2 linked regions of the Homo sapiens genome follow. The protein of the gene in region 1 binds, or shares a complex with, the protein of each later gene. Each region holds a gene or a part of one and is shown on either strand. Other genes may lie near its edges.

What was found.
Region 2: the proteins of PLEKHA4 (region 1) and KLHL12 are in contact, whole or in part, in a crystal structure (PDB 8OIO), measured with the Homo sapiens proteins. Residues at the interface, in NP_065955.2 of Homo sapiens: Pro177, Gly178, Gly179, Pro180; in NP_067646.1 of Homo sapiens: Phe289, Arg320, Glu417, Tyr434, Ile439, Phe481, His486, Cys511, Tyr512, Tyr528, Leu533, Cys558.

What each region holds. Positions count from the first base shown.
Region 1 is NC_000019.10:48,846,117-48,858,656, reverse strand, and holds part of PLEKHA4 (pleckstrin homology domain-containing family A member 4), read left to right. Parts: intron 1-1,160; coding exon 1,161-1,235; intron 1,236-4,392; coding exon 4,393-4,440; intron 4,441-4,569; coding exon 4,570-4,650; intron 4,651-4,825; coding exon 4,826-4,975; intron 4,976-6,330; coding exon 6,331-6,429; intron 6,430-10,616; coding exon 10,617-10,757; intron 10,758-12,540. UniProt on the Homo sapiens protein: Binds specifically to phosphatidylinositol 3-phosphate (PtdIns3P), but not to other phosphoinositides.
Region 2 is NC_000001.11:202,916,002-202,928,541, forward strand, and holds the start of KLHL12 (kelch-like protein 12), read right to left. Parts: upstream 11,234-12,540; 5' UTR 11,088-11,233; intron 9,207-11,087; coding exon of another isoform or gene 9,162-9,206; coding exon 8,967-9,161; intron 3,908-8,966; coding exon 3,754-3,907; intron 2,388-3,753; coding exon 2,170-2,387; intron 1-2,169. UniProt on the Homo sapiens protein: Substrate-specific adapter of a BCR (BTB-CUL3-RBX1) E3 ubiquitin ligase complex that acts as a negative regulator of Wnt signaling pathway and ER-Golgi transport.

The sequences.
Region 1 (12,540 bases):
TTCGGCCATTGCTTTTTTTTTTTTTTTTTGAGACTGAGGTCTTGCTCTGTCGCCAAGGTTAGAGGGCAGTGGCACGATCTCGGCTCACTACAACCTCTGTCTCCCGGGTTCAAGCGATTCTCCTGCCTCAGCCTCCCGAGTAGCTAGGATTACAGGCACCTGCCACCACGTCCGGCTGATTTTTATATTTTTGGTAGAGATGAGGTTTCACCATGTTGACCAAGCTGGTCTCGAACTCCTGACCAGCTGACAGGTGATCTGCCCATCTCAGCCTCCCAAAGTGCTGGGATTACAGGCGTGAGCCACCGCGCCTGGCCCAGCCATTGCTCTTTAAGCATCATGGGGATTGTAGTCCTGGATACTCTGTGCCAAGACAGTGCGGTGAGAGGTTTGCATCTCCCTTGTGTCCCCAGTTCACCTTGCAAGTTGGTTGCCTGCTGTTTTGTCTGAGCATCATGGGACGGTAGCTCAGAATATCCACAGCTGACTGCAAGTCTGAGAATGAGAGTAGCAAATTCCATCATCTTGTGGGGCTGTTTTGCCAGGCTGGTGCATTTATTATCACCCTCTGTGTCCCCACAGTGGCACACAGCTGGAGAGCAGGTAGTTGAGGAAGTTGAGAGGGCCCAGTTCTGAACCTCAAAATATCTCCTAAAGCACTTCAATTATGGACATGCCCACTCTACTATTTGTCACTAAGACATGCCAGTTTCTTTTTTTTTTTAATTATTATTATTATTTTTTTATTGATCATTCTTGGGTGTTTCTCGCAGAGGGGGATTTGGCAGGGTCATAGGACAATAGTGGAGGGAAGGTCAGCAGATAAACAAGTGAACAAAGGTCTCTGGTTTTCCTAGGCAGAGGACCCTGCGGCCTTCCGCAGTGTTTGTGTCCCTGGGTACTTGAGATTAGGGAGTGGTGATGACTCTTAACGAGCATGCTGCCTTCAAGCATCTGTTTAACAAAGCACATCTTGCACTGCCCTTAATCCATTTAACCCTGAGTGGACACAGCACATGTTTCAGAGAGCACAGGGTTGGGGGTAAGGTCATAGATCAACAGGATCCCAAGGCAGAAGAATTTTTCTTAGTACAGAACAAAATGAAAAGTCTCCCAGACATGCCAGTTTCTAAACATCTCCATTTCAACGTTCCTCCCAGGCACACTCTGGCTCCCCCACTTATCTCCAGCTCCCCCCGCGGCCCCCTGGGACCCGGGCCTCCATGGTTTTATTGGTAGGTATCCTGGAGTACCCTAAATCTACCGGAGCCCCCTCCCTTCCTTTCTTCTCTATGAGGAATGTCATCTCTTGGCCTAGGGTGCCTAGAGAACTGTAGATATTTCAAAGACCCTGGGTAGGTATTAGATTCATGTGGTGGCTGTAACAAAGCGCATGGCCGAAAACAACAGAAATGGATTATCTTGCGGTTCTGGAGGCCAGAGGCCTGGAGTCAAGGGATTGGCAGGGCTATACTTCCACTGAAGGTTCTAAGGAGGAGCTTTTATTGACTCTCTCTTAGCTTCTGGTGGTTGCCAGCAATTCCTGAGGTTCTGTGGTTTTTTTTATGGCCACATCTTTGCCTCCATCATCCCATGATGATCTTCCTTTGTGTTTTTGTTGCTGTCCATCTCCTCCTATTAGGACACCCCATGACATCGTCGTAACTTAACTTAAATCCGCAAAAACCTCTTTCTTTCTTTCTTTCTCTTTCTTTTTCTTTTCTTTTCTTTCTTTCTTTCTTTTTTTTTTTTTTTTTTGAGACGGGGTCTCTCTCTGTCGCCCAGGCTGGAGTGCAGTGGTGCGATCTCGGCTCACTGCAAGCTCTGCCTCCCGGGTTCATGCCATTCTCCTGCCTCAGCCTCCTGAATAGCTGGGACTACAGGCGCCCGCCACCACGCCCGGCTAATTTTTTTGTATTTTTTTCTTTGTTTTTTTCTTGAGACAGAGTCTCGCTCTGTCGCCCAGGCTGGATTGCAGTGGCGCGATCTCGGTTCACTGCAACCTTCGCCTCCCTGGTTCAAGCAATTCTCCTGCCTCAACCTCCTGAATAGCTGGGATTACAGGCACGTGCCACCATGCCTGGATAATTTTTGTATTTTTAGTAGAGACGGGGTTTCACCATGTTGGTCAGGCTGGTCTCGAACTCCTAACCTCGTGATCCTCCCGCCTCGGCCTCCCAAAGTGCTGGGATTACAGGCGTAAGCCACTGCGCCTGGCCCAACTTTTTTGTATTTTTAGTAGAGATGGGGTTTCACTGTGTTAGCCAGGATGGTCTCGATCTCCTGACCTTGTGATCTGCCCGCCTCGGCCTCCCAAAGTGCTGGGATTACAGGCGTGAGCCACCGCGACTGGCCTTCCTTCCTTTCTTTCTTTCTTTCCCCCTTCCCCTTCCCCTTCCCCTCCCCTCCTCGTTCTTTCCTTTCCTTTCCTTTTTCTCTCTCTTTCTTTCTTTCCTTCTTTCCTTCCTTTTTCTTTTTTTTTTTTGAGAAGGAGTTTCACTCTTGTTGCCCAGGCTGGAGTGCAATGGCGTGATCTCGGCTCACCGCAACCTCCCCTCCTGGGTTCAAGCGATTCTCCTGCCTCAGCTGCCCGAGTAGCTGGGATTACAGGCACCCACCACCACGCCCTGCTAATTTTGTATTTTTAGTAAAGACAGGGTTTCTCCATGTTGGTCAGGCTGGTCTTGAACTCCCGACCTCAGGTGATCTGCCTGCCTCGGCCTCCCAAAATGCTGGGATTACAGGCATGAGCCACTGCGCCTGGCCACCTAGCTAACTTTTTCTACTTTTTGTAGAGACAGGGTTTTGCCATGTTACCCAGGCTGTTTTTTGTTTTTTTTTAAATTAAAAAAAATTATTTATTTTCTTGAGACAGAGTCTCACTCTGTCACCCAGGCTGGAGTGCAGTGGTGCAATCATGGCTCACTGCAGCCTCAGTCTCCTGGGCCCAAGCGATACTCCCACCTCAGCCTCCCTAGTAGCTGAGACTACAGGCATGTACCACCATGCTCAGCTTATTTTATTTATTTATTTATTTATTTATTTATTTATTTGAGACGAAATCTCACTCTGTCACCCGGGCTGGAGTGCAATGGCACGATCTCGGCTCGCTGCAACCTCTGCCTCCCGGGTTCAAGTGATTCTTCTTCCTCAGCCTCCCAAGTAGCTGGGATTACAGGCGCCCGTCACTACGCCTGGCTAAGTTTTGTATTTTTAGTAGAGACAGGGTATCACCATGTTGGTCAGGCTGGTCTCGAACTCCTGACCTCAGGTGATCCACCCGCCTCGGCCTCCCAAAGTGTTGGGATTACAGGCATGAGCCACCGCACCCGGCCCTATTTTTTTATTTTTATTTTTTTTGCAGACACAAGGTCTCCCTATGTTGCCCAGACTGGTCTTTAACTCCTGGGCTCAAGTGATCTTCCCTCTTTGGCCTCCCAAAGCTTTGGGATTACAGGAGTGAGTCACTGTGCCCTGCACTTTGTTTTATTCTTAGTCATAAATAAAATGTCTAAATTTCTCCATTAATTATAATATTTGCCATGGCTGCTTGATCAAGAGCCCATTATTGATCTTTCTGAAGCCAAGAATGTGGAAGTTGGTCTACTGAAATTTGCTAATGCTTAGAAGGAAGCTGATAAGGAGAGGGGTCGCTAGGCTTGGTGGTTCATGCCTGTAATCCCAGGACTTCAGGAGGCCAAGGCAGGAGGATCATTTGAGATCAGGAGTTCAAGACTGGTCTGGGTGACATAGTGAGACCCCAGCCCTGAAAACAAACAAACAAACAACCTTAGCTGGCACCGGTGGCTGGCATCTGTTGTCCCACCTACTTGGGAGGCTGAGGTGGGAGGATCCTTTGAGCCTAAGAGTTCAAGGCTGCAGTGAGCCATGATCATGCCACTGCACCCCAGCCTGGGTGACAGACCTTGACTCAAAAAAAAAAAAAAAAAAAAAAAAAAAGGCCAGGCATGATATGATGGTGCATGCCTATAATCCCAGCACTTTGGGAGGCCGAGGCAGGAGGATTGCTTGAGCCCAGGAGTTTGAGATCAGCCTGGGCAACATGGCAAAACCCCATCGCTACCAAAACCAACAGCAACAAAAATTTTAAAACTACAAAAATTAGCCGGGCATGATGTGTGCGCCTGTGGTCCCAGCTACTCAGGAGACTGAAGTGGGAGGATTGCTTGAGCCCAGGAGGTTGAGCCTGCAGCGAACCATGATCGCACGACTGCACACCAGCTTGGGTGACAGAGCAAGACCCTATCTCTAAATAAATAAATAAATAAATAGTGCAGTACCTATCAGTAGAGACAGGGCGTGGCTCAGCACTGAGTTACAAGAATGACCAGCCTGTCCCCTTTGACCCCTGACTTTTTTCCTTCTCTTCAGCCGGGTCCTCCCCTGGAGTCAACTTTCCACCAAAGCTTGGAGACAGATGTAAGTTGTCACTGATCTAATCCTTGCTGAGTTCCCAGAGTTGGGGAGAGAATGTTCTAGATGATGGGAGGAGCGGCAGGGGAAGAGCCAGATCTGGACCATCAGTAGCTCCCGCTCTCCTTTCTCCAGACGCTGCTGACCAAGTTGTGCGGGCAGGACCGGCTTCTGCGGAGGCTGCAGGAGGAGATAGACCAGAAGCAGGAGGAGAAGGTGCGGGGCCCTGGGCCAAGGACAGGGCGCCTGGCCTCTCTGCCTGCCCTGAGCCCTTCCTGAATGCGGAAGTCAGGATGCTGACTGGACGTCCAGGACGTGAAAGGACATCTTTTCTTTCTTCTTGGGGCTAGGCATGGCTTCTGAAGTCTAACCACCTTCTGTCTTGGTGCAGGAGCAACTAGAAGCAGCTCTGGAGTTGACCCGGCAACAGCTGGGCCAAGCCACCAGGGAGGCTGGGGCTCCCGGGAGGGCCTGGGGTCGCCAGCGCCTCTTGCAGGACCGGCTGGTCAGTGTGAGGGCCACCCTCTGTCACTTGACTCAGGTGAGCACCTGGGAAGGGGCCTGCCCTCCTAGGAGGCCCCAGGACTATGCAAGTCGTTACGAAGGGGACCTGCCCCAGAGGGCTCATAGGAAGATCGTTCTTCAGAAGTCTACACTCCAAATTTTATTATTTTTTCTCTCTCCTCATTGTCTTGTAACCACTCTAATTTTTTTTTTTTTGGGGGGGACAGAGTCTTGCTCTGTCGCCCAGGCTGGAGTACAGTGGTGCCATCTCAGCTCACTGCAACCTCAGCCTCCTGAGTAACTGGGATTACAGGCATGTGCCACCACACCTGGCTAATTTTTGTATTTTTAGTAGAGATGGGGTTTTGCCATGTTGGCCAGGCTGGTCTCGAACTCCTAACCTCAGGTGATCAGCCTGCCTCAGCCTCCCAAAGTGCTGGGATTACAGGCATGAGCCACTGCGCCCGGCCTTAAGTAACTCTGAGAATTATTATATGTGATACGTGAAAATGAGTGAATGAATGAATGAATGAATGAATGAATATTTAACACTTAAGGTACTTGGTACTTGGTAAAGCAATACTTAAGTGTCAGCTATAATTATTATCTGTAAAATGGAGACAATAATAGTAACTACCTCATAGGAATTAAATGAGAGTTGAGAACAATGCCTAGCACATGATCAGTGCCCAATAAGTGTTAGCTGATATTATCATTGTTATTGTTGGTATTGGCAAGGAAGTTTCTGCTGCCCCAGGGTGAGTGGGTGCTGTGGTTATTTTTTTTGAGACGGATTCTTGCTCTGTTGCTCAGGCTGGAGTGCAGCGCCTGGATCCAGGCTCACTGCAACTTCTGTCTCCCTGGTTCAAGTGATCCTCCTGCCTCAGCCTCCCGAATACCTGGGATTACAGGCCCTCGCCACCATTCCTGGCTAATTTTTGTATTTTTAGTAGGGACGGGGTTTCACCATGTTGGCCAGGGTGGTCTCGAACTCCTGACCTCAAGTGATCCGCCCGCCTTGGCCTCCCAAATAGCTGGGATTAAAGGCCTGAACCACCGTGTCTGGCTGGGTGCTGTGGTCTTTTAACTGTCTAATGAAATTCATTAGATCTGTAGACTCTGCTACCTAGGAGAGAGCAGAAGTAATCCTGGGGATTCAGGGAATGCTGTTATTTGTCTACACTAGCAGTGTACTGGAATTGCAGGTTCCATACAGACTTTGGGGTTCCCAGTAGTCCAAGCAAAGAGGCCCATGGGAATTGTAGTCCATACGCCTGCAGGGCTCCAGGGACCAAACTCCCTTATCTCCTCCTTAGCTGACAAATGATGGGGTGGGGAAGGATCTGGTGGGAGAGGGACCTAACCTATGTCTCCCCCTTTATGCAACCTGAGGAGCGAGAGAGGGTTTGGGACACGTACAGTGGCCTGGAGCAGGAGCTGGGCACCTTAAGAGAGACGCTGGAGTACCTGCTGCACCTTGGTTCTCCCCAGGTAAATCGCTGCTTGGAGACCCCAAGACCCACCCCCAACTCCAAGTTCTGCCTGGAAATCCTTTTAGCATTTAATCTTCGCCCACAGAATCGAGGCCCCGCCCAGTTGACCCTTAGCCTCCTTTCTGTCCTTTCAATCTAAGCCCCTTATTTTAGTTAAGACCATGCCCTTTGGGGTTTTTTTTTAAATTCTCTCATTAAAATTTTAATTAAGCTTCAATTTTGAATGCCGTTTTCTCGAGCTGTTATCTAATTTCTGCTGTAAAGTTGTTTATTTGTTTGTTTTTAAGACAGTCTCACTCTGTCGCCCAGGCTGGAGTGCAGTAGCGCAATCTTGGCGCACTGCAACCTCTGCCTTCCAGGTTCAAGTGATTCTCCCACCTCAGCCTCCCAAGTAGCTAGGATTTCAGGCACATGCCACCATGCCCAGCTACTTTTTATATTTTTAGTAGAGACATGTTGGTCAGGCTGGTCTTGAACTCCTGACCTCAAGTGATCTGCCTGCCACGGCCTCCCAAAGTGCTGGGATTGCAAGCATGAGCCACTGCGCCAGACCTAATTTCTGCTGTAAAGTTGGCTATAATTTTACAACATTTTTTTTTGAGGGGGAGGGGGACAGAGTTTTACTCTTGTTGCCCGGGCTGGAGTGCAATGGCACGATCTCAGCTCACCACAACCTCTGCCTCCCGGGCTCAAGCGATTCACCCACCTCAGCCTCCTGAGTAACTGGGATTACAGGTGCCCGCCACCACGCCCAGCTAATTTTGTATTTTTAGTAGAGACGGGGTTTCTCTATGTTGGTCAGGCTGGTCTTGAATTCCCGACCTCAGGTGATCTGCCTGCCTCGGCCTCCCAAAGTGCTGGGATTACAGGCGTGAGCCACTGCGCCCGGCCTACAACATTCTTTTTAAAAAATGTATTGTGGGTACATAGCAGATGAATATATTTATGAAGTGCATAAGATATTTTGGTACAGGCATGCAATGTATAATAATCCCATCATGGAAAATGGGGTGTCCATCCCCTCAAGCATTTATCTTTTGTGTTACAAACAATCCATTATACTCTTTTATTTTTTATTTTTATTTTTGAGACAGTCTCGCTTTATTGCCCAGGCTGGAGTGCAGTAGCACAATCTTGGCTCACTGCAACCTCCGCCTCCCAGGTTCAAACGATTCTCCTCCCTCAGCCTCCCAAGTACCTGGGATTACAGATGACCACCACCATGCCCGGTTAATTTTTCTATTTTCGGTAGAGAGGGGGGTTTCACCATGTTGGTCAGGCTGGTCTCGAACTCCTGACCTCAGGTGATCCACCCACCTCGGCCTCCCAAAGTTCTGGGATTACCGGTGTGAGCCACTGTGCCTGGCCTACTCTTTTATTTTTATTTTATTTATTTTATTATATTTTTTGAGATAGAGTCTCGTTCTGTTGCCCAGACCGGAGTGCAATGGTGCAATCTCGGTTCACCGCAACATCCGCCTCCCAGGTTCAAGCAATTCTCCTGCCTCAGCCTCCCGAGTAGCTGGGATTACAGGCATGCACCACCATGTCTGGCTAATTTTGTAGTTTTATGAGAGACGGGGTTTCTCCATGTTGGTCCGGCTGGTCTTGAACTCCTGACCTCAGGTGATCCACCCGCCTCAGCTTCCCAAAGTGCTGAGATTACAGGCGTGAGCCACCGCACACAGCCCTTCTATTTTTTATTTTCTTTTTTTGTGTGTGTGAGACATAGTCTTGCTCTGTCGCCAGGCTGGAGTGCAGTGGCACAATCTCGACTCACTGCAACCTCCACCTCCCAGGCTCAAGCAATTCTCCTGCCGCAGCTTCCCCAGTAGCTGAGACTACAGGTGTGTGCCACCATGCCCAGCTAATTTTTGTATTTTTAGTAGAGATGGGGTTTCACCATGTTGGCCAGGATGGTCTAGATCTCTTGACCTCATGATCCACCCGCCTCGGCCTCCCAAAGTGCTGGGATTACAGGCGTGAGTCACGGCGCCTGGCCGCCCTCTTATTTATTTATGAGATGGAGTCTTGCTCTGTTGCCCAGGCTGGAGTGCAGTGGTGTGATCTCGGCTCACTGCAACCTCTGCCTCCCGGGTTCAAGTGATTCTCCTGCCTCAGCCTCTAGCTGGGACTACAGGCGTGTGCCACCACGCCTGGCTAATTTTTGTATTTTTAGTAGAGACGGGGTTTCACCATGTTGATTAGGGTGGTCTTGAACTCCTGACCTTCTGATCCGCCTGCCTCGGCCTCCCAAAGTGCTGGGATTATAGGCATGAGCTACTGCGCCCGGCCAATGCCTTTCGTTTTAATACCTACTTCAGATCCAGAGCTGCTCTCTCCCCTGGTTCTAAATCTCTCCTCTTGTTGAAGCCATGCTCTCACCAGCAAAACTCCAACCCTCAGCCTTTTTTCCATCTTGCAAGTTCATCTCTTGCATCCTGCATCCTGACTTTTGCTGTTAAATTTATCCTCTGGAGTTCCAGTTCTGAACCCATTCCTTTAGTGCAAGCTCTGCTCCTAAAATATAAACCTCATTGCTTAGCCTCAGACCTGCTTTTTCACTCTAAATCTAGCCATCAAGTTCTAAATCATGTATCTTTAAAAACATTGACACGGCCGGGCGTGTTGGCTCACGCCTGTAGTCCCAGCACTTTGGGAGGCCAAGGCAGGTGGATCACTTGAGGTCAGGAGTTGGAGACCAATCTGACGAACATGGTGAAACCCTGTCTCTACTAAAAATAGAAAAATTTGCTGGGTGTGCTGGTGCACGCCTGTAGTCCCAGCTACTCAGGAGGCTGAGGCAGGAGAATCGCTTGAACCCGGGAGGCGGAGGTTGCAGTGAGCCGAGATCGTGACACTGCACTCCAGCCTGGGTGATAGGGAGAGACTCCATCTTAAAAAACAACAACAACAACCCCAAAAAACAAAAAACCATTGATGCCTAGTTTTAAATGCATCTTCTCACTCTAAGCTGCTCCCACTAGATCTACAATCCAGACTTGGCAAGAACAGACCCATGCCAGCTGCAGTGGCTCACACCTGTAATCCCAGCACTTTAGGAGGATGAGGCAGGTGGATCACCTGAGCCCAGGAGTTTGAGGCTAGCCTGGGCAACATGGTGAAACTCTGTCTCTACTAAAAATAAAAGTGAAAAAATTAGCTGGGCCTGGTTGTGCACGCCTGTGGTCCCAGTTACTCAGGAGGCTGAGGTGGAAGGATCGCTTAAGCCCAAGAGTTCGAGGATGCAGTGAGCTATGATCAAGCCATTGCACGCCAGCCTGGGTGACAGAGGGAGGGACTGTCTCCAAAAACAAACAAAAAGAACAGACTCTCATATTCGTATGGTCACCTATTTATAATAGATGTAACACAGTAAAACAACATAGAAAGAAAAGACAGTTTTTTCTTTTTCTTTTTTTTTTTTTTGAGACAGTGTCTCGCTCTGTTGCACAGGCTGGAGTGCAGTGGCACGATCTCAGCTCACTGCAACCTCCACCTCCTGGGTTCAAGCAATTCTCCTGCCTCAGCCTCCCGAGTGGCTGGGATCACAGGCATGCACCACCACCCCCGGCTAATTTTTTTTTGTATTTTTAGTAGACACGAGGGTTCACCATGTTGGCCAGGCTGGTCTTGAACTTCTGACCTCTGGTGATCCACCCGCCTCGGCTTCCCAAAATGCTGGGATTACAGGTGTGAGCCACCACGCCTGGCCAAAAGACAGTTTTTTTTTTTTTTTTGAGACGGAGTCTCGCTCTGTCGCCCAGGCTGGAGTGCAGTGGCGGGATCTCGGCTCACTGCAAGCTCCGCCTCCCGGGTTCACGCCATTCTCCTGCCTCAGCCTCCCAAGTAGCTGGGACTACAGGTGCCCGCCACTACGCCCGGCTAATTTTTTGTATTTTTAGTAGAGACGGGGTTTCACCGTTTTAGCCGGGATGGTCTCGATCTCCTGACCTCGTGATCCGCCCGCCTCGGCCTCCCAAAGTGCTGGGATTACAGGCGTGAGCCACCGCGCCCAGCCAAGACAGTTTTTTTCAATTCAACTGGATAACCACATGGGAAAAAAAATAAATCCCAACTCCATAAATATAGCCCAGCTGATTTCAGACCTTTGCAGGGGCCTATTAGCTGAAACCCTCCTGCGTTTTCCCACCTTTAAGTAACAAATTCCTTTCCTCCCTGCAGGACAGAGTGTCTGCTCAGCAGCAGCTGTGGATGGTGGAAGACACGCTGGCAGGTCTGGGTGGCCCCCAGAAACCGCCCCCACACACTGAGCCTGACTCCCCATCTCCCGTGCTCCAGGGCGAGGAGTCCTCAGAGAGGGAGGTAAGACGCACATAATTCCTCCCCACCCCAAGCTTCATGTCCCACCTGTCCTTGACTCAGTCTATTCCCCACCCACCTCTTTAATTCTTCCTTGATCAGCTAACCCACCTGGTACAAGTGTCCTAACCTCTGGAAGCCTTTGTTTTCTTTTTTTTCGGGGGTTTTTTTGAGACGTAGTCTCACTCTGTCATCCAGGCTGGAGTCCAGTGGTGCAATCTTGGCTCACTGCAACCTCCACCTCCTGGGTTCAAGTGGTTCTCCTGCCTCAGCCTCCGAAGTAGCTGTGATTACAGGTGCCCACAACCAAGCCTGGCTAAGTTTTGTATTTTTAGTAGAAACGGAGTTTCACCTTGTTGGCCAGGCTGGTCATGTACTCCTGGCCTTGAGTAATCCGCCTGCCTCGGCCTCCCAAAGTGTTGGGATTACAGGCGTGAGCCACCTCGCCCAACCAGGATTTTTTTTTTAAGATGGGATCTCATTCTGTCGCCCAGGCTGGACTGCAGTGGTGTGATCATGGCTCACTGCAGCCTCGAATTCTTGGGCTCAAGCAATCCTCCTGCTTCAGCTTCCTGAGTAGCTGGGACCGCAGGCTCGTGCCATCATGCCTGGCTAATTTTTGGTTGTTTGTTTATTGTGGAGATGGAACCTCACTTTGCTGCCAAGTCTGGTCTTAAACTCCTGGCTTAAAATGATCCTCCAGTCTCAGTATTCCAAAACGCCAGGATTACAGGAGTGAGGCACCGCACCCAGCCCTAATATGATTATATATATAATGCACTTAGACACCAGGCACTGTTCTAAGTGCCACATATATATGGACTCAATCCTAATATCAAAAAGTAAAATGTTAATGAGCCAGGCACAGTGGTGCACACCTGTAATCCCAGCTACTTGGGAGACTGAGGCAGGAGAATCGCTTGAACCAGGGAGGCAGAGGTTGCAGTAAGCTGAACCAAGATTGCACCACTGTACTCCAGCCTGGCTGAAAGAGCGAGACTGTGTCTCAAATAAAATAAAATATGGCTCAGAGAGGTAAAGCAGCTTGCCGAAGGTCACACAGCTAATAAATGGCACAGTTGGGATTTGAAGCCAGGACATCTGGCTCCTGGTTTACAGTTTTTTTGTTTTTTTGGAGACAGGGTCTTGCTCTGTCACCCAGGCTGGAGTGCAGTGGTGCCATCACAGCTCACTGGAACCTCCATCTCTGGGGCTTAAGTGATTCTCTCACCTCAGCTTCCCAAGTAGCTAGGACTACAGGTGTCTGCCACCATGCCCGGCGAATTCTTTAACTTTTTTGTAGAGACGGGGTCTCCCTATGTTGCCTAGGCTGGTCTTGACCTCCTGGTCTCAAGTGATCCTCCCATCTCGGCCTCCTAAAATGCTGGGATTACAGACGTGAACCCACTGTGCCCAGCCTAAAACGTTTGTTTTGTTTTGCTTTGTTTTTTGAGATGGAGTCTCTCTCTGTTGCTCAGGCTGGAGTGCAAGTGGCTCGATCTTGGCTCACTGCAAGCTCTACCTCCCGGGTTCACACCATTCTCCTGCCTCAGCCTCCCGAGTAGCTGGGACTACAGGCACCTGCCACCACGCCCGGCTAATTTTTTTTTTGTATTTTTAGTAGAGACGGGGTTTCACCGTTTTAGCCAGGATGGTCTCCTGACCTTGTGATCCGCCTGCCTCGGCCTCCCAAAGTACTGGGATTACAGGCATGAGCCACCGCGCCCAGCCTTAAAAAGTTTTTAAGGGAAGGGGTCTTGCTATGTTGCCCAGCTGGTGTCTAGCT
Region 2 (12,540 bases), on another chromosome or scaffold:
GTGCTCATTCTATTCATTGTATTTTCCAATATGTGTACAAATCAAGAAAAATCAAGATATTCTAGTGAATTGCCAGTTTCCAAGTCTGATGAATATGTTTTTTGGCTATGCCTGCCACTTCAGCACAAGGATACAATGTCCTACACTAAGAGGCTGAGAACTAAGATTTTAGCAAATTCTTGACTCAATAGCATTTGCAACAGCAGCTTCTCTGGGCTGATACAGAGCCCAGTATGTCAGGCTGGAAAATAATTCCTCTACAGTTGGAACCAATGTGACCAATGTGCTCTAATCCATTTTCCCTCAGAACAGTCACTAGAGAAAGGTGTAAAGAAACACTTGGCTAAAATTTGATAAGAAATATACTTAAGGCCAGGAGCCGTGGCTCACACTTATAATCTCAGCATTTTAGGAGGCTGAAGTGGCTGATGTCAGGAGTTCCAGAGCAGCCTGGCCACAATAGTGAAACTCCGTCTCTGCTAAAAATACAAAAATTAGCTGGTGTAGTGGTGGGCGCCTGTAGTCCCAGCTACCTGGGAGGCCGAGGCAGGAGAATCACTTGAACCCAGAAGGTGAAGGTTACAGTGAGCTGAGATCACACCACTGCACTCCAGCCTGGAAGAAGTATACTTAAGACCTGTTATTATATTACACAAATATCCTAGTTTTAACAAAATAAATCAGGAGAGAGTAATCATTTAGTTTATGGAAGTATATTAGAGGCTTTCTTTAAATGGTATTGCCTGAGCCTAGCATTGCTTGAGCCTAGCAGTTCAAGACCAGCCTGGGCAACACAGCGAGACCCCATCTCAACAAAAATTTTAAAAAATTAGCCCGGTGTGGTGATGTGCAGTTCCAGCTACACAGGAGGATGAGGTGGGAGAGCTGCTTGAGCTCAGACATCCAGGCTGCAGTGAGCCATAATTGCATCACTGCACTCCAGCCTGGGTGACAGAGTGAGACCATCTCAGAAGAAAAAAAAAAAAAATTAAAGAATTGGACCACTGGAGATCAATACTATGGGCTTCAAAGACATCTAATAACTATATTGGACTTCTCACTCCAATTCTCAGCCTAACTACAAACCTATATGCAATAAAACTCTGCTACTGGTACTCTGATTTAGAATTAGGATTGACTTTTCTTCTGTGTAGGTTAAGTCACTGAATGCCTGCCTGGCACAGGTAGTATCCCCCTGGTAGGTGAAGTATTATTCCTTCTTCCCCCGCAAGAGACAGGGTCTCCCTCTGTTGCCTAGGCTAGAGTGCAGTGGTGCGATCATGGCTCACTGCAGCCTCAAACTCCCAGGCTCCAGAGATCCTCCCACCTCAGCCTCTCAAGTAGCTGGGACCACAGGTGCTCACCACCATGCCAGGCTAATTTTATTTTTTTGTAGAGACAGGGTTTTGCCATGTTGCCCAGGCTAGTATCAAACTCCTGGACACAAGCAGTTCTGCCTCAGCCTCCCAAAGTGCTGGGATTACAGGCATAGGCCACTGCACCTGGCCTACTATTCCTTTAACATCCAGTTCATGTGTCCCTCCCTTCCAACCGCTGCATCCTCACAAGACAGTTATGATTTGGCTCCTGCTTCTGTAGATCCTCACTTCCAAACTTTTGTCTCTTCATTTCTGATCCACTCCTGAGCAAAGGTTTATTCTTCTTTCTTCTATGTAATGTCCTTACTTTGTATAGGCTCACTATTCTCATGATCCTCTTTATAACATTTTTTTTGTCTATATCTCTGTCTCTACTAGCAGGTTGTGAATTTTCTGAAAGCAAGAACTATATTTACCCACTTGGGGATCTGTAGCACCTGGCATAGTTAAGTGCTACATAGTAGATATTCTCAATAAATGTTTGTGAAATGAGTGAACGGGTAATAGAGAAGTGGTCTACAGATACCTACTTTACTTCCAATTTCTGCTTATTCTATACTCTGTTGAATAGTGATTCTTACCCACTGGGATCATATATCTAATTGAAGAAAGTGGCAAACTCCCTCTCCATAAAAATGCAAATAAATTTGGTACAGGAGGGGTTAATGAAATCTTTGAGCCAAAATGCACACTTAATTATGAAGCCCTGATGGTAAGTAACTGCATCCTATTTGCAAGTTTTGTAATTGCCCAATCTTGAAGAAACCATAACATCAAGACAAATCCGTACCTGAATTTCGTCGCACTTGATTAGCTTTTCCACCTCTCCTTGACTCAGAAGAATGAACTCTTCATGCTGTACCACTTCAGGAAAATGCTTCTGGCTAAAAACCTCAGCTGCTTGCATCAGGTCAACACAATTGTGGGTTTCAGCAAAATCCCTAATACCCAGGCAATTAGAAGGGTCCAACTGACTTTCTAAGAACTCACAGCAGGCTTGTTTCACACCTAGGACAGACACAGGCAGCAAACACTTTAGAATAGTTGGACAGGTGTGATCTAGGATATATTCTTGTATCTCAGCATCTTCTCTACATGTTATCAGATGAACCCTTGTTTCAACACCTAAGAAACAGATTAGAAATTCTATGCTTAAGGAACTTAAACTCTATTTCTGGCTTATGTACTGTGCCACTTTCAGCAAGACCTTTACACCTGTCTCTGCTTAATCTTTAAAATGAGTATTGCAAGATGAATCACATCCAGAGACCTGGCACAATTCAACAAAAATGCCTATAAAACTCTTGGGAATCAAACTATAAAACCAATTGCGAATTCAGCATAATGTATCCATTTTCTACTCTACATGAAAACTTACTAAAAGACTAGAGTGAAAGAAAAGGAGAAGATAGTAATAACAAATCTCATATTTATCTAATTGAAAAGTTCAGAGTATTTTAATGTTATGGCTATGCACTAATGCAAAAGCTTCACACTGTTTAAATCATGTATTAAAAACTAAAAGTGTGTCAATTATGTATATATAAAAACTGAAAACATAACTGAATGTTAAAAAAGAAAAACTGGGGACCAGGAACGGTGGCTCGTGCCTATAATTCCAGCATTCTGGGAGGCAAGGTGGGAGGATCACTCGAGCCCACGAGCTTGAGACCAGCCTGAGCAACATAGAGAGAACTCATCTCCACACAAAAAAATTTTGTTTTAATTAGCTGGGTGTGGTGGCATGCACCTGTGGTCCCAGCTACTCAGGAGGCTGAGGTGTGAGAATTGCTTGAGCCCAAGAATTCAAGGATACAGTGAGCTGTGATTGCACCACTGTGCTCTAATCTGGGTGACAGAGTGAGACTCTGTCTCAAAAACAAAACAAAAAACCTGGGAATTGTAAGGGAAAACAAACCACCTGTAATCCTGTGAAAATATCATACTTTAATATTTTGTGCATCAATTTAAATTTCATGTATCTTAATGAAATACTACCACTTAATGGCCAGATAGATAAAGAGTATCCATGTAGGCTATGTATAGTATCACTTTTTTATTATATTTCCTTATAGGTGTGTTACATACATGTATGTAAGAAAACACATAATTTCTCCTTCCTCCATTTTTTTTTTAAAACAGAAAAGGTGCAAATGCTCTCTTTTATAGAGCCAAATACTCATATCTGGAGAAGTTCCTTTATAGTGCTATTGACATCTGATCTCTTATTGCTCAATGAGACAAAAGCCATGGCCAGCAAACATGAACATCCATAGTTTGTCTCCAAAATGTTCATGATTAAGTTTACACTATTAATTTTCAACCTTTCCAGGGCTATTTTGACATAAACAATAGCAAGTTTTAATGTCTGTACCTTTCAACTGAAGCAGACAGGCTGCAGGAAGCAGTTCTTGTACATTCTCCACTGTCACATGTACTGTTTCTGTGTACACAAAGTCCAATAAAATTTCCATGGTAGAGGCAGTCAAACCTTGGATGTCAACATAAGGTTTCCCCTTCTCTGAGAGCTGAAAATTCAAAAGGTATAAAAGAATGATGGTTATAATTCCACAAGATAAAGGCAGAATCTCATATCTAAGAGCTTAGAGATGTTAATAATATTAATTGAACATTTATCTTTAAAAATTACAGGCCAGGCGTGGTGGCTCATGCCTGTAATCCCAGCACTTTGAGAGGCTAAGGCAGGCAAATCACCTGAGGTCAGGAATTCAAGACCAGCCTGGCCAACACAGTGAAACCCCGTCTCCACTAGAAATACAAAAATTAGTTGGGCATGGTGGCACATGCCTGTAGTCCCAGCTACTCAGGAGGCTGAGGCAGGAGAATTGCTTCAACCCAGGAGGCGAAGGTTGCAGAGAGCCAAGATTGTGCCACTCCACTCCAGCCTGGGCACCAGAGTGAGACTCCATTTCAAAAAAATAAAAAAGAAAGAAAATAAAAAAATAAAATTATGCTCTATTTTGTTGGATTTTTTTTTTTTTTTTTTTTTTTTTGAGACGGAATCTTGCACTGTTTCCCAGGCTGGAGTGCAGTGGTGCCATCTCGGCTCACTGCAAGCTCCACCTCCTGGGTTCATGCCATTCTCCTGGCTCAGCCTCCCGAGTAGTTTGGACTACAGGCGCCCGCCACCACGCCCGGCTAATTTTTTGTACTTTTAGTAGAGACGGGGTTTCACCGTGTTAGCCAGGATGGTCTCGATCTCCTCACCTCGTGATCCGCCTGCCTCAGCCTCCCAAAGTGCTGGGATTACAGGCGTGAGCCACCGCGCCCGGCCAATTTTGTTGGATTTTAATAAAGCAAATATGGCACATTATCTGTAGCTTTCCAAATGAAGTAGGTAGTTATCTATACGCCAGGAATAAGTAATAGGTAACACCTTCCTGGAATAGTAATTTTGCCAGTGAATAACTTTAAAAATCTATTTCATATTAAAATACAGATGTATTTACAGAATAGAATGCAAAAGTTCCATGAACATAACACTGGTCCGTGAACTTTTAAGATAAGACACAATATTTCAAAGAAATTTCATGTTCGTAGAGGAGCCTGTGGGTTATAACTCCAGTCTCTCCAGGACTACCTAGTTCCTATCATCTGTCCTTAGACTACTTTTTTTTCCCCTTTGTTGAGATAGGGTCTTGCTCTGTTCCCCAGGCTGGAGTGCAGTGGTGTGATCTCAGCTCACTGCAACCTCTGCCTCCCAGGTTCAAGTGTTTCTCGTGCCTCAGCCTCCCAAGTAGCTGGGATTACAGGAGTACACCACTACAACCAGCTAATTTTTTTTTTTTTTTTTGACACAGTCTTGCTCTGTTGCCCAGGCTGGAGTGCAGTGGCGTAATCTTGGCTCACTTCAAGCTCCACCTCCCAGGTTCAAGCGATTCTCCTGCCTCAGCCGCCTGAGTAGCTGGGACTACAGGCACATGCCACCATGCCTGGCTAATTTTTGTGTTTTTAGTAGAGATGGGGTTTCACCATGTTGGCCAGGCTGGTCTTGAACTCCTGACCTCAAGTGATCTGCCCACCTCAGCCTCTCAAAATGCTGGGATTACAGGCGTGAGCCACCATGCCCGGCCCTTAGACTGCATTTAGTAATGACGAAAAAGAACATGCAGGTCATCCTAAGGGACTTTCTTATGTAACATCATCTGAATACAAATAAATTATTTGTTACTTTTTCAAAATATTGGGTTAGACTAACTGAATTGTTAGCAGTATATTTAGTCTAAATTGTTAGTAGTATATCTTCTTGAAGCTATGAGTATTGATGAGGCCAGATAATCATAGAAAACTGTTTAGCTAAGAGAAGAAATCTTCAATTTTACAGGAAACTATCTGAAAATACCTTATGAAAATTTTACTAGATCTTAATCTTAGTTTAGAAATTCATTTTACTTAAAAAACTCTGGTGCATCTCCATTATTAACTAAATGGCTTTAACGTTTTTTATTTCTCCATCAGCCAGAGAATAACCAAAAAGCACTCTCTACCAAAGCCAAGAACAAAATCAATCCCTAACACTAAAAAAGTCACTAGCACATTATTTTGAAAAAACATATTAGGTTTTATTAACATTTAATACAGTACTAATATTCATAAACAATTACTATCCCAACACATTAAATGCATTTAATAATTATGGTACTGAAATATGTAAGTACATGTATTCCAGAAATTTCTCATTCAATAAACTACATTTCCATCAAATAGTTTAAATATGGAAACAATTTCACTATGTAAGAACTTAGAGCAATTATACATTTTACAGTTATATTTTGCTTTAGAATTTTTCAGCATGCTTCTCATTTACTACTATTTCATCTGATTCTCACAGCAACCTGGTAAGGTAGTTAGGTCTGATATTATTACTATCTAAGAGATAAAGGGGGGCCGGGCACATGGCTCAAGCCTGTAATCCCAGCACTTTGGGAGGCCGAGGTGGGTGGATCACAAGGTCAGGATATCGAGACCATCCTGGCTAACATGGTGAAACCCCGTCTCCACTAAAAATACAAAAAATTAGCCAGGCGTCAAGGAAAAAAAAAAAAAGAGAGAGCGATAAAGGGTCTAAAGATCAAAGAAGATCCAAGACTTTTTTTTTTTTTTGAGACAGAGTCTCGCTCTGTCACCCAGGCTGGAGTGCAGTGGCGTGATCTGGGCTCACTGCCAGCTCCGCCTCCCGGGTTCACGCCATTCTCCTGCCTCAGCCTCCCGAGTGGCTGGGACTACAGGCGCCCGCCACCACGCACGGCTAATTTTTTGTATTTTTAGTAGAGACGGGGTTTCACCGTGTTAGCCAGGATGGTCTTGATCTCCTGACCTCGTGATCCACCTGCTTCGGCCTCCCAAAGTGCTGGGATTACAGGCGTGAGCCACCACGCCCAGCTGAAGATCCAAGACTTAACCAGTCACTTAGCTAGTAAGAGACAGATATCATTCTTATTAAAGTATTTCAGGAAAAAAAAAAGAGAGAGAGAGAGAGACAAAACCCAGGTCCTCCTGCCTCAGTCTTTGTGATCTTTCAATCAGATGACATTTGAGGAGCATTTCATAGCTGAAGAGAACAAGGAAACCATCTAGTTCAACTACTTTATTTTACAGATCAACCCAGTGAAGTTAGATGGTTCCCAGGGTTTATACAGAATTGCTAAGAGAACTAAGCCTAGAATCCAGGTCTCTGGACTCTCTCCTTTGAACAATTACTCTCAAAAATAAAGACAAAACCATCTAGCATTTCCTTGCCTGATGTCAGTTTTTAAAGAAAGAAATCATCACTGATGAGAAAAAAAGAATTCATTTCCAAATAACAAAAGAGTAAAGACACTATTTTCAAGCTGACAAAAAACAGGATGCACAACATATAATTAGCAATCAGCCGTTCTAGTTCATTTCTTGCTCAGCAGCTGCTGGGTGACACTCTCTTTACCCAGTTAAATTCCAAATGCTTCTGATGATCTTGGGTATATCTCATGGAGAACAGTATAGGACAGGGATCTGCCTTGGTATATCACACAAGTTTATTTAAAAATTAGCCTGAATTAGTTGGAATGACCTGTCAGGTTCCTGTTTTCCCTACTAGCCATGTGACTGAGCATTGGCTCATAGTATTTTTAACTATACCAGTTTTAAAATTAGATTGTAGTATATAAAATTCATACTTCGGAGGCTAAGGCGGCACAAGAGTTACAAACTGTTTGGGCTTTAGAGTTGGAAAATATAAAATGAAATCCCACCTCTAGCACTTACAAGCCATGGGACTTTGGGCAAGTGATTTAATATCTGAAACCCTATTCCTTCATTTGTAAAATGAGATGGTAATACCTACCCCTAGGGTGAGTCAGATATGCACAACAATTACTAGCACAGTACCTGGCCCATAAAAGGTAGTTATTACCATCACAGAATACGCCTCTCCCATTCTGATTCAGCAGCAATATCTACACTAAGATGATAGAACTAACTAAAAAAAAAACAAAAAACAAACAAAAAACTTGTGCTTAAAAAGACTTTTAAAACAGTGTTTTCATAATGAAATATTTCAGGCATACATGTAAGTGTAAATTATATAATAAACAGTGATGCACCCACAACTGAGCTTTGAAAAAATAAATCAAGATAATTTATTTAAATCTGCTCTTAAAATGAGACTTGGGATCTTGAAAAACAAAGATTTGCAATGTTATTTTCTGTTCAGCTTTCTAAGAATATTCAACACAATATATTCAGCAGCCTTACTATACATTTCAAGTATTTTGTCAGGCAATTACTAAGTAGTGTTTCTTAATACTTTGTGAGCACTACCTGTATTCTCTCAAGCCAACCTTTTCCTAATTCCCTTTGTTAAGTGCTTATGAGTTAACATCCTTTCTCAGGTTATACACTCAACGCCTGTACAGCTATTCATTAAAAACTCTTCTTCCTTTCATTTGAAGTTATCCTAAAATTTACACTGATTTTCTTCACATATTGTTAGGAGGAGTGGGATGTGGTTTGAATCCTACTCCTCTCTCCTTCCTTCCTCCTTATCCCTCTGGTATTCACTTAAAAATTTTTAAACTTTAGAAGGAAAAAAGGCTGGATGCCGTGGCTCACACCTGTAATGCCAGGTGTGGCCACTCTGGGAGGCCAAGGCAGGAGGATTGCTTGAGCCCAGGAGTTCAAGACCAGCGTGGGCAACATAGTGAGACCCTGTCTCTACAAATAAATAAATAAAATTAAAAACAAAAAAAGGAGAAAAATTGGAAGACAAATTTAAGAAATAGTAAAATCCAATAGCTGACATGTGTGTTTTACTACATATTACACTATTCTAAGCACTTCCTATGTTATTTCATAAAATAATCTTCACAACAACCTTAATAACCATGTGTTACATATTACTATTATCCCTAACTTAAAGATGAGGAAACTAAGGCATAGTCATCTAAGTGGTAGATCTTATCCAGAATCTGCCAAAACATCACACTGTAAAAATTCAAAATTATATCAAACTTCCACTATTTTATTCAGTGAAATTAGACAACTAGAGTTCCACGGGTTTCATTTGTGTGGGGCTAATTTACCACTTACCTCACTAGTGAACATGGCACAGAAGTAATCACTACAGGCAGCCAGCACAATCCGATGGGCAGGGAAGTCTTTCTGCTCTACTCTCAATGTCACATCACAGAGGGTATTGCTCTTCCTGAGGGAGTTCATTGAATTGAGGATGGATTTAGCATGAGTATTTGTCATTATGTCTTTGGGGGCCATAATGCCTCCCATAAAGCAGTGCGGAGAAAGAACAAAATGGGTCCTTGGATTCTGCAACTACAAGAGGGAAAAAAAAACAATGAGCATATTCAAAGAACTAGGGCAACTGAACATATTTAATTAGCTTTACAAATTAAGAACCTAAGAGGCTTCCTCAGACCCAAACATACACAAGTTGAGGGCACTCCTATGCCTGGCATCACCACCAACCACTAGCCACTATCTAGTCCATGTAAAAGCTCTCTCTTCTTCCTCTGAATTCCTCTATCACGGAGTGTCCCTACCACTTGACATTTAATATGATCAATGCTGAAATGTAAGTAGAGATAAACAATATATGTCTTGTAAATCTTGACAAGGTTCTTGTCTCAAATGATAAACCGAAAATATAAAATTTCTTAAAGGTGTTATATTATTACTATTTAATGTCCTTAAGTAGATAAGTATTTAGAGCATACATAAAAAGAGGATCCTGCTTTATATGTATGCTTTCTATCCTAGAAGTTGCACAATAAATGTTTAGAATTTAATGTAAGAAAAAGTGTGTATTCAACTTCAACTTAGAGCAAGAAAGGCCACTCAGTAAAAATAAACTTTTTTCTAAAGAAGTATCCAAATGATATGTCTGATGACTTCCAAACATATCTGGATTTCTTCTTAAAATGAAACTTCAGGCCGGGCCCAACAGCTCACTCCTGTAATCCCAGCACTTTAGGAGGCTGAGGTGGGTGATCAGTTGAGGTCAGGAGTTTGAGAGCAGCCTGGCCAACATGGTGAAACCTAGTCTCTACTAAAAATACAAAAAATAGCCAGGCGTGGTGATGCGCGCCTATAATCCTAGCTACCAAGAAGGCTGAGGCCCGAGAATCACTTGAACCCAGGAGGTGGAGGTTGCAGTGAGCCGAGATCACACCACTGCACTCCAGCCTGGGCAACAGAGCGAGACTCTGTCTCAAAAAAAAAAAAAAAAAAAGAAACTTCAATTGAGGACCCATTACCTACACTGAATAATGGAAACCACGCAAGTTATCGATGGACTTACACTTGCTTAAGATATTGAAGCTCTTCAACAAGAGGGTATTCCTACTCTACATCTGTGAATGTCCATTACTGTTAAAGAATCGATATTGGAATCCAAAACTTTCTGAAATGATCCGGGGGGAAGGAAATCAAACTGTGGTCTCCAAAAGTCCACAAGTCACAATTAATCTTTCAACAGGAAAAATGAGATCCTAAATTCTCATCTACTTCTGTTTGTAGTTGGCATTTTACTCTATAAGCACTATAGATAATTCCTCCAACAACTCTGCAAGACCCATTTTACAGAAAAGCGGGTGATTCATCAAAGCATATGTTTTTCAAAAAGACTTAAGTCAACTTAGTTGCAACTCTAGGGGTGTAAAAAGGTCTAGAACAAATGTCCATTTACTATGAAGACAGCCCGGGGGGTCTTTTATCGTTTCCGTGTCAAAATGACAGTACCCCGGTGCAGAGTGGTCTTCCTTCTAGGGGATTCCTGCCTCAACACTCCAAGTCTCAGCATATCCTTCATCCTCACCCTTCTGAAGTGACCTATTTTCTAGAACTTTCGTTAACATCTGAATGGAGGGATTCCACTTCGGGAGATTCGGGGCAGGGAATGGGTAGTAAACTCGGGAAAGACTAAATTCTAGAGAAGGAAACGAAGTCCTTCCTCCTAATACCACCAGGCATATGGCCGCCACCGCCAGGTGGAGGTATCGGAGAGGGGCAGTTCAGGGGGAGAGTTGAGAGGGTGACCGAGGCCAGATGCCCCACCCCACTGCCAGCCTTCCTCCTCTGTTGGGCATGTCTCCCATTCCGCCTTGCAGGGAGACCAAGGATGGGGGGTAGGGCCATAACCCGGAGTTGACGGACAGGAAGGGAAGGGCTGACTGCCATCACTTCCGCGCAACTCACCTCCGCTCCCGAACCCACACAGCCGCACCGGGCCCGTCCCCAGCCTGTGGGGATGGAGTGCGGCGCGGGGCTAGCAGGCGGCTCGGGAGGAGCCGAAGCGCCGCCCAGACCCGGAGGCTCTGGAGGCTCTGGAGCCGTCCGGGTCTGGCCCCTGCGGCCGCGCGACGTGATGACGCAATGCAGCTGGAGCACCGCCCTCCCCCCGCTCCAGAGTCTGCGTCACGTGAGGAGGTGGTGTCACGTGACCTGTCTGTACCCTAGCGCGGGGCTTCTGTACGCTGCTAGGAAGCCGAATTACAAAAAGGTCGGGTGGGCAGGGAATGGTGGCTCACGCCTATAATCCCGGCACTTTGGCAGGCCGAGGCGAGCGAATTACCTGAGCTCCGGAGTTCCAGACCCGCCTGGGGATCACGGCAAAACCCCGTTTCTACAAAAAAAAAAAAAAAAAAAAAATTAGCCCGCACCGCGCCTGTAGTCCCAGCTACTCGAGAGGCTGACAGGAGGATCACTTGAGCCAGGCAGCAGAGGTTGCAGTGAGCCAGGATCGCCACTGCACTCCAGCCTGGGCCACAGAATGAGACCCTGTAAAAAAAAAAAAAAAAAAAAAATGTCCAGGCGTGGTGGCTCACGCCTGTAATCCCGGCACTTTGGGAGGCCGAGGCGGGTGTATTACTTGAGGTCAGGAGTTCGAGACCAGCCTGGCCAACATGGTGAAACCCTATCTCTACTGAAAATACAAAAAAATTAGCCGGGCGTTGTGGCACGCGCCTGTAATCCCAACTACTCAGGAGGCTAATGCAGGAGAATCGCTAGAACCTGGGAGGCGGAGGTTGCTGAGCCGAGATCGCGCCATTGCACTCCGGGCTGGGCGACCGACTGAGACTCTGTCTCTTAAAAAAAAAAAAAAAAGGCCAGGCGAGGTGGCTCACGCCTGTAATCCCAGCACTTTGGGAGGCCGAGACGGGTGGATCACGAGGTCAGGAGATCGATTCTGGCTAACACGGTGAAACCCCGTCTCCACTAAAAATACAAAAAAATTGGCTGGGCGTAGTGGCGGGCGCCAGTAGTCCCAGCTACTCGGGAAGCTGAGGCAGGAGAATGGCGTGAACCCGGGAGGCGGAGGTTGCAGTGAGCTGAGATCGCGCCACTGTACTCCAGCCTGGGCGACAGAGCAAGACTCCGTCTCAAAAAAAAAAAAAAGAAAAAAGAAAAAAAAGAAAAAACAAAAAAAAGGCTGGATGTTGTGGGGTCCGGCAGGGAGCCTGGGAATGTATCTACAGCTCGGCGATTGGCTGAGCCTGAGTTCCTCCCTACCGCTCACTAGGCAGGGCAGGCAGAGAGAATTCCAACGCTTAATATGCCAAGCATCTGATTGCAGCAAGTATGTTTTACCTTCCAGGTACTGAGGAACTTTTTGACATCGAGAAAACCCACAGAGGCCTCAAATTTATTC